Regions from separate parts of the Homo sapiens genome. Here regions 1 and 3 are each linked to region 2. Evidence: fine-mapped expression QTL. A gene starts in region 2. Each other region holds a variant in brackets. All regions are shown on one strand. Distances are from middle to middle.

Region 1 (2,759 bases), 23 kb after region 2:
CTCTCCATCTATCTCAGAGTAATAGACAATTATGTGTCCCTATTATCTACTACTATGTAACAAACCACCTCAAGCTTAGAAGCATAATGCAGCAATAATCAATTATTATGACTATTACTATACCTCACTGTTGGAGGGGTTGAGTGGGCTCAGCTAGGTGGTTCTTGCTCAGGGCCTCTCATGCAGTTACAATCAAATGGTAGCTGGGGCTGGACTCATCTCAAAAGATTTCTCATCTATGTGCCTGGTGGTGGATGTGACCATCAGGGGGCCTCATCTGGGATTATCATCTGGAATACCTGCATGAGGCCTCCACATGTGGCCTGGGCTTCCTCACAGCATGGCGGCTGGGTTCCAAGCACAAGACCAAGAGAGAGAGCTGGGTAGAAGCTGTCTTGCTGCTTATGACCCAGCTTTAGAAGAAAGACAACATTGCTTCTGCTGCATTCTGTTACCCTGCATGCAGCTATGTTCAAGGGGAGGGGAATTAGACTCCACCCCTTGATGGGGTGAGAGTCAAAGAATTTGGGGACGTGTAATAAAGCCACCAGATCATAACTTACCAGGCTTTACATAATTGGCTTCGTGCCTCCTCTCTGCCTCTTCTCCTCCCACCCTGACTGGCTGTCACTCTACTTCTGTCCTCGGGCCTCCTTGCTGGTCCTTGACCCTAAAAGCACTTTCCTGCCTCAAGTCCTTTGGTTCTCTCTGCTCCCTTGGCCTCAAATGCTCTTGCCCCAGGCATCTGCATGGCTTGTTCTCTCCAGTCAGGACTGGGCTCAAATGTTACCTCCTCAGAGAGGTCTTCACCAGCTTCCCTACACAAAATAGCACCCCTGCCCCATCACTCTCTAGCCCCTGCCCTACTCTGTTCGTTGCTGCAGCAATGATCACTGCCTGACTTTACCTAGTGCACTTCACTGTGCATGTGTCTGTGACCCCCACTAGAATGTAACTTCCATGAGGCCAGGGACATCATCGGCCCTTTTCACTGCTGTGTCCACAGTGCCTAGAACAGAGCCAAGCACATTCCCCTCCTCCATCCTTACTTGTTCAGCAGATGAGGGAATGAAAGGGCTCCACATGGAACCCTTCCTGGTTTGGCATGTAATTCAGCTGGGCTTGCCCCTGGTTGGCAAAACAGACCACGTGGTGATGCAGACCTCCTAAGGGCCTAATAGTCTCATGCAGTGCCTCCAAGTGTAAATGTAAAAACATCCCTGGTTACACTAGAAGTGGTTTCAGGAGATGCCCTGCATAGGAGGTCCTCCATGTGGCCTCTCTGGAATCATGATGTGGCCAGCAATCTAATTTCCCACAATACACAGGGAGTGGAGTCAGAGTGGGTCAGAGAGAAG[C/T]CACTTTGAGCAACCAAATAAACACAGGAGCTTTTTTAGACTCACAGGGCTGAGGGATCCTGAGTGGCATGGAGCCAAGACTGGTTTTTTTTTTTCCTTTCTTTTCTTTTTATTTATTTATTTAATTTTTGAAACGGAGTTTCACTCTGTCACCCAGACTGGGGTGCAGTGGCACAATCTCAGCCCACTGCAACCTCCATCTCCTGGGTTCAAGCGATTCTCCTGCCTCAGCCTCCCAAGTAGTTGGGACTACTGGCATTCACCACCACACCCGTCTAATTTTCGTATTTTTAGTAGAGATGGGGTTTCGCCATGTTGGCCGGGCTGGTCTTGAAATCCTGATCTCAGGTGATCTGCCCACCTTGGCCTCCCAAAGTGCTGGGATTACAGGCATGAGCCACCATGCCTGGTCATCTTTTCTTTTTATTCGGACACCAACTTGAACCAGAGGGATTGTTAATAATTTATTTTTCCCATCAATGTCTACTCATGGCAGGTGATGTTGGATGCTCCATTTATGGTGGGGATCTTGTTTCCTTTTAAAATAGATGTGTTTTAGTAAAAAATGTAGCCCATGATTAAGGGGATATATTTGGTAAGGAATTTTACAGGGACAATTAGATACAGATAAAAATTATAAAGGTGGTTGGTGAATGCCTACATTTCAAGAAACAGTGGCTCATTGAAAGGATCCTGTACAAACAAAAAAATGTCTGGCATCATGATAGAATCAGTACCTCCACCAGCCAGCACAAGTCAGGAATGGACCCACAACATTGCAACTGCCCTGGAGGCATCTGTTCTGGTTCCCAAGTGCAGGGAAAGTGTTGGGGGAAGACTTGGATTATTTGCAAAACCCAGGCTGCCATAAAAGCAGTTTTGTTTGAGTTTTTAAAACACTTATTACCTTGTTGACTAACTGGGTCAACACTGGGTACAACTGTACACCCCACCAATCCTCTCACACATGTGTTCAATTTCCAGTAAGAGCTCTTGTCCATTTCCCCCATGATAAGGCCAGTGTTTCTCAAGTGTGGTCTGAAGACCCTATTGCATTAGAATAATCTGAGGAAGACATTCGAAGTGCAGATTCTCAGGCCCGAGGCCTGAACTCCTGGAACAGAATCCCTGGAGGTAAGACCCGAGATCCTGAAATCTCAACACACCCTCCCATTCCAGTTAATGGTTTTGCTATGGGACTATGAGAGTTTCCTTAGGAAGCACAGTAGAGGGGACAATTCCAACACAAATAAGGTCTTGAATATGGAGGACTTCCCAAAGGGACATCAACACCCAGCACCAACTTCCCAAGGGGACACCATGTGACCCTGTAGTGGTCTCTGCCAGATTTTGGATAAGTGGGTTCATTACTTTGGAGAGAAGTGGGTCCAAAATCTGAAC
Region 2 (2,759 bases):
GACAATTCACCTACATATTGGACCCCAGCTCCTTGGCCTCACAGTGGCATGGTTCCCTTGTCTCCTCCTCAGGAGGAGGCTCAGGAGAAGTGGATGGGTGGTCTTCTGCACAGCCCTGGTCTGCAGGTTCCAGCCAGTGACAGCCACCTGAAACTTGGGGTTTTTCAGGACCCTTTGTGTTGCGAGGCCTTTCCCGTCTTTAATGCCAGAACCATGCATGCTCCTGGGCTCTATGGCTCCCGTGGGGCCCTGTTTTCAGTTTCTTGGGGCCCATTTCTTGCCTCCCTAAGGCCAGAACAGAGCTTCAGACTGTGGGGACCCATAGACTTGGGGGCCCTCCTTGATGAGGACTCTGGGGCCTCTCTTCTTGGAGTACAGGTGAATATGCTTCCTGGAAAGATTCACTGACACCCGGAGGCTTAGAGGAGGGCAGGGCGGGCCCGGGCAATCTGGGGAAGTCTATGGCATTCAGTCCTGGCCAGAGGGCAAGAGAAGGGGCTCATGGTCCAAAATGGATGCAGGGAATAGGACACCGCCAGGGAAGCTGGCAGGAGCGCTTCTCATACGTTCCCCAAATGCCCTACTGCAACACCTTGGCTTGTGTCCTTGTTGGCACCTGGAAACCCCTTCCCACTCCCCACCCTGACACTCAGCCTCTGCTCTCCTCTCAGCTGAGTCCACACTCTCCTGCTCTTTGCTTTCAGACACTCTGGTCGCCTTCCCCCAGGGCCCCTACAGAGCTCCATAAAGATTTGCTAAGTGAATGAATGAGTTCTCATTTTACAGAAGAGGGGGTTAAATTCCCTGGGTTTTCCCCTTACCCAGCCTTTCCCCAGCTAGTTCCTCCTCCTTTACATCCCAGCCAAAAGACCAATCCCGGGAGGCTCTCCGGACGCCCCCTCACTTTGCCACTCCCATTTCCTGCTCCCTTCCTATCCTCCCGCCCCCGTGCCCAGGTCCTGCTCTCTTTACACCCTGACATCTTCCTGCTTGCTTTTTTCCTGTCTCCTGGCAAATGTCACCATCCCCATTTCACAGAGGAGGAAACCGAGGCTCAGAGAAGCCTCAGAGGGAATAGCCCAGCCAGATAAAAACCCCTGGGTCGTGAGCACGTTCTTCCACCCATAGTAGCCAGGTGCTTTATTCATGTGGTTTTACTCTGAAATCGGGATGGCTGTAGGTAATAATAGTGGCCATGCAAATCATATTTCATGACAGTTTTTGAAAGGCGCCGTTTCCACCTCGCAGTTCCAGTGCAGGCGGGTGGGACTCAGTGGTGTGTGTGTGTGCGGCGAGTGCCTGCCTGTAGGTGGCCCCGGCCAAGCCAGCCCCGCCCCAGGAGGAGGCTGAACATTAGTCCTGCATGAGGGTGTCTGGGAACTGGGTGCGCCACGGGGGCCCTACCTCACTCCTCCCTCTCACATTGCCGATCGAGTCAGCCCCACGGCGGCAGCACCACGACCGACCGGGATCCTCGAGGTGCCAGCCCATGGCCGAGCCTGCCCTCCTCCCCGCCGCCCAGATGGAGAGGCTGGCCCCAGGGCCCCTAGCCTCACCGTGTCCTCGGATCCCGCGGGCCCGCATTGCCAGGCGCTGCGCCCAGCGCTGGGCCGACCTGGGCTGCAGGTACAGGGGTCACGGGAGCGGGAGGGAAGTTGGCCCTACTATGCACCAGGGGCATGTGCGGTCTGTCTTCACAACATCCCTGTGAGGCAAGAATCTTCCTCCATCGTACAGATGAGGAAACAGAGGCTTGGAGAGCCCGGTCACCTGGCTGTCAAGTGGTGGAGATGGCTTTTAGCCCTAGTCCATGGGACTCCAAACCCAGAGCCTTCCTGGGACACAGCATTGCCCTGGGTTCAGGCTACTGGCCTCCTGCAGGGGTCACTGATTTTCAGATTCTTAGAGACCGTGAGTGACGCCAGTATGTGCCATTTCCTCTTCCTCTGGGTGTAGAGTCTTAGGGGGCCCAGGGGCTCAAGATTCAGGAGTCTCTGGGTCAAGTTTCTGGGTCAGTGTGGCCGTGTGGTCACCTCGGCTGAGAACTGGTCACCCCTTATTCCTGCTCAGCCTGCCACTGACAGCCAGACCAGAATTTTCAAATAGTCATTTCCCCCACTCTGATTACATCATATTACAATTTGATTATTATAGAAAGTCAAACAGTGCAGGAATACTGTACAGGAATACATATGTTCATTCTTGAAAACTTACTACTGTTAAAGTTTTGACATATACCTTGGGAGAACTTTTTGACATATGTAAACCTAAACTTGTATAGTTTTACACAAATAGGCTCTTGTGTTACATGTGCTTGTAAGGTTTTCCCCTGCAACCCCTCAATTAATGTTATGGACATATTTACATGTCAGTAACATAAAGATCCAATTCATTCACTTTAGTGGCCTGCCAGGATCCAACTTTATGGATATCTTTGGTTAATTTGAATCAGTTCCTGGCTAATGGACATTTAGGTTGGTTCCAATTTTTAACGATTCTAAGCAATACAGCAATGAACATCTCTGGGGACTTGCATGGGTAAAATTCACATCCTAGACTTGTAGTTGCAAGTTTAAAAGGAATGTTAGAATCTGAATAGACCCTGCCCTCCAAAAGTGTTCTAGCTTGGAACACACCTGCAGCAGGAGACCCCCATTGCCCCATTCATTTGCCACCCAAGGACCTGAAGACTAGACGTGGTCTGTACTCAGAAAGCAGATTCAGGGAGCAGGTGATCCTGATCGTAGGACAACTGAGTC
Region 3 (2,759 bases), 28 kb after region 2:
CAGTGATTAAAACCACAGGCTTTGGAGCCAGCCAGACTTGGGCCCCAGTGCCCATTCCCCGACTTAGCAGCTGTGGGACTTTGGGCAAGTAACTCAGCCTCTCTGGGCTTCAGTGGCTCCATCTGTGAAAAGGGGTTGTGGGTGGCTTCTGTCTCCCAGGGTTGTGTGAGCATTGTCAGCTTCCCACATGAGTAATTGGGCACTGTCTGTAATTTGCATAGAAAATGTCGTCAGAGAATGGCGACTCCGGTATGAAGGGGGCCCAGCTCAGTTCCGGGGCCTCTAAGTTTCCTCCAGGTAAGTGGTCTTCATTCTCCAGGGCCCTGAGAATCCTCCAGGCTGCATAAAGGGCTGCTCTGTGAAGTAAGAGAATGTGCACACCTCCCAGCATTTCCTGCTTCCTGCTGACTCCCTGCCTTCCCTGCTCAAGGGCAGTAGGGAGGAGCCCTGAGGGGACAGGTTGGGCCCTTAAGTGAGCTGTTGCCATCAGGCCCATGGGGCTCAAGATGGGAAAATTCTCTTCCTGGGCAATTGGCCTTAGCTGGGAAATCACTTCCTGGGGCAGTGAGGGTCTTAGCTAGGAAATCATTTCCTGGGGGCAATGGGCCATAGCTAGGAAATCACTTCCTGGGCAATGAGCCTGAGCCCTAAACCTAATGATTTGATCCTGGGGCTTTGAACTTGAGCTTGGGAGCTCACTTCTTAGGACTAAGGGCCTAAGTCCCGAACCCAAGCACTTGCTTCCTGGCAGCCAGTTCTCACTGCCTTTCTCTGCTTTGTTTCCCCCGCCCCGCAGCAGCAGAGCCTGGGGGGCTGCAGGAGCAGGCTGGGAGGGAAGAAGCCTTCAACATGGACTCTGCCTACTCAGAACAAGCTGCGGTGCTCCTGCAGAGGAGCAGGCCATCCCGGGGAGGCACCTCTGCCTGGGGCAAGTGTTCCCTGCCGGTGAGGATGCTGTCCACAGGGCTGGTTGGCTAGGTCCCCCTGTGCTCAGGCACCAGCACCCATCTCTTCACACCTTCCACACTGACAGGCATCCAGCACAAAAGTTGTTAATTCATTCATTCATTTAATTCGTACCACAAATATTTACTGAGTGACCGCTGGGTATCAAGACTGGGGAGCAGGATGCTTACAGTCTAACAGTCCTGTCAGTATTGTCTCCATGCTCTTTGTTTTTATCCTTAGAAAGCCCTCCCTCCTCCAGCAAGCTCATAACTGTCCATCAACATGTTTTTCTAGTTACTTTTAAAATTAATTTTAGTGCCTGGAGTGACAGAGAGAGACCCAATATTTTAGTTCTGTTCTTTCCTCCCTCTCTCCCTCCCTCCCTTCCCTCCTCCTCCTCCTTCTTTTTT[CTTTCTTTCTTTCTTTCTT/C]TTTCTTTCTTTCTTTCTTTGTTTTTCTTTTCTTTCTCTTTCTTTCCTTTCTTTCTCCTCCCTCCTTCCCTCCCTCCCTCCCTTCCTTCCTTCCTTCTTTCCTTCCTTCCTTTTCTTCTTCCTTTCTTTCCTTCTTTCCTTCTTTTTTTTTTCTTTGAGACAAGGTCTCACTCTGTCACCCAGGCGGGAGTGCAGTGGTACCATCCCAGCTCACTGCAGCCTCAACCTCCCAGGCTCAAGCTATCCTTACACCTCAGTCTCTCAAGTAGCTAGGACTACAGTTGCATGCCACCATGCCCAGCTAATTTTTAAAATTTTTTTTAGAGTTAGGTTCTTCCTACATTGCCCAGGCTGGTCTCAAACTCCTGGGCTCAAGCAATCCTCCAGCCTCAGCCTCCCAAAGTGCTGGGATTACAGGTGTGAGCCACTGCACCTGGCCGTTCTTTTTTCCCAAAATATTCAGTTATCCCAGCATAGTTCCTTCCAAATAGGATGTAATCATTGATAGTTAGGTTTTTAAAGATTGAACTATAACTCGCTGTTAAGTGCACAGATATTTACCAGGTACAGCTTGGTGTGTATGCCCGTGTAAATACCAACAAATGAGTACAGAAACTTCCTCCCTTGCTTGATGGCTTGTAATATGGAAAAAGAAAGAAAGAAAGAAACTTCCTACCCCACCACCCCCTCAGTGCCCGCATGCCCTTCCCAGGTAATTCCTTTCCCTGCAGAATAACCACTATTCTGACTTCTCTCATGGAGTAAATATAGTCTTTCACAGTCCCTCTATTACTAAAGGAAGTGTTTCTTCTTTGACCACGTGATGATGCAGTCGATGCAATCTTAGGTAACATTTTACTGAGGGCTGCCCTGGCCCAGGGCATTGTTCCCAAGGCTTCCAGTGCCCTCATTGCTCCCTGACTATATGATAGAAAGAAAGAGAAGTAGGATCGGGCACAGTGGCTCACGCCTGTAATCCCAGCAATTTGGGAGGCCAAGGCGAGAGGATTGCTTGAGTCTAGGAGTTTGAAACCAGCCTGGGCAACATAACAATACCCCATCTCTACAAAAAATTTTTGAAATAGCCAGGTGTGATGGTGCAGGCCTGTAGTCTTAGCCACTTGGGAGGCTGAGGCAGGAGGATCACTTGTACCTGGAGGTTGAAGCTGCAGTGAGCTATGATTGCACCACTGCTCTCCAGCCTGGGCCACAGAGCAAGACCTAAAAAAAAAAAAAAAAAAAAAGAGAAGTGGCATATGTTAGTCTGTTTTTACACTGCTGATAAAGGCATGAAAGAGGTTTAATGGACTTACAGTTCCACATGGCTGGGGAGGCCTCACAATCATGGTGGAAGGTGAAAGGCACGTCTCATGTGGCAGCAGA

Which allele goes with the higher level. Positions count from the first base shown, and alleles are read on the strand shown. Sizes are in standard deviations (SD) of each study's normalised expression.
As copies of C replace T in region 1, the expression in testis of the gene that starts at base 1,356 in region 2 goes up (small effect, 0.29 SD a copy in GTEx).
In carriers of allele CTTTCTTTCTTTCTTTCTT in region 3, the expression in skin of the gene that starts at base 1,356 in region 2 tends to be higher than with C alone (large effect, 0.90 SD a copy in TwinsUK).

Evidence for each region. PIP is the estimated chance that this variant, and not a neighbour inherited with it, causes the effect. A credible set is the group of variants that fine-mapping cannot tell apart.
Region 1: its variant is the best candidate, but not a certain one, in a credible set for the expression of ARHGAP40 in testis (GTEx, PIP 0.81).
Region 3: its variant is the best candidate, but not a certain one, in a credible set for the expression of ARHGAP40 in skin (TwinsUK, PIP 0.65).

What each region holds. Positions count from the first base shown.
Region 1 is chr20:38,623,949-38,626,707 of GRCh38, forward strand. All of the region lies in intron 2 of ARHGAP40 (Rho GTPase activating protein 40), which reads left to right. Among named protein-coding and RNA genes, the nearest start is that of ARHGAP40, 24 kb to the left of the region's middle. The variant C/T (reference allele first, on the strand shown) is at 1,359.
Region 2 is chr20:38,600,454-38,603,212 of GRCh38, forward strand. ARHGAP40 (Rho GTPase activating protein 40) reads left to right here and starts at 1,356. Exons shown (of 15, transcript NM_001164431.3): 1 at 1,356-1,626. The coding sequence starts at 1,490. RefSeq lists an enhancer at 1-478.
Region 3 is chr20:38,628,706-38,631,464 of GRCh38, forward strand. ARHGAP40 (Rho GTPase activating protein 40) reads left to right here. Exons shown (of 15, transcript NM_001164431.3): 4 at 222-297; 5 at 797-945. Among named protein-coding and RNA genes, the nearest start is that of ARHGAP40, 28 kb to the left of the region's middle. The variant CTTTCTTTCTTTCTTTCTT/C (reference allele first, on the strand shown) is at 1,359.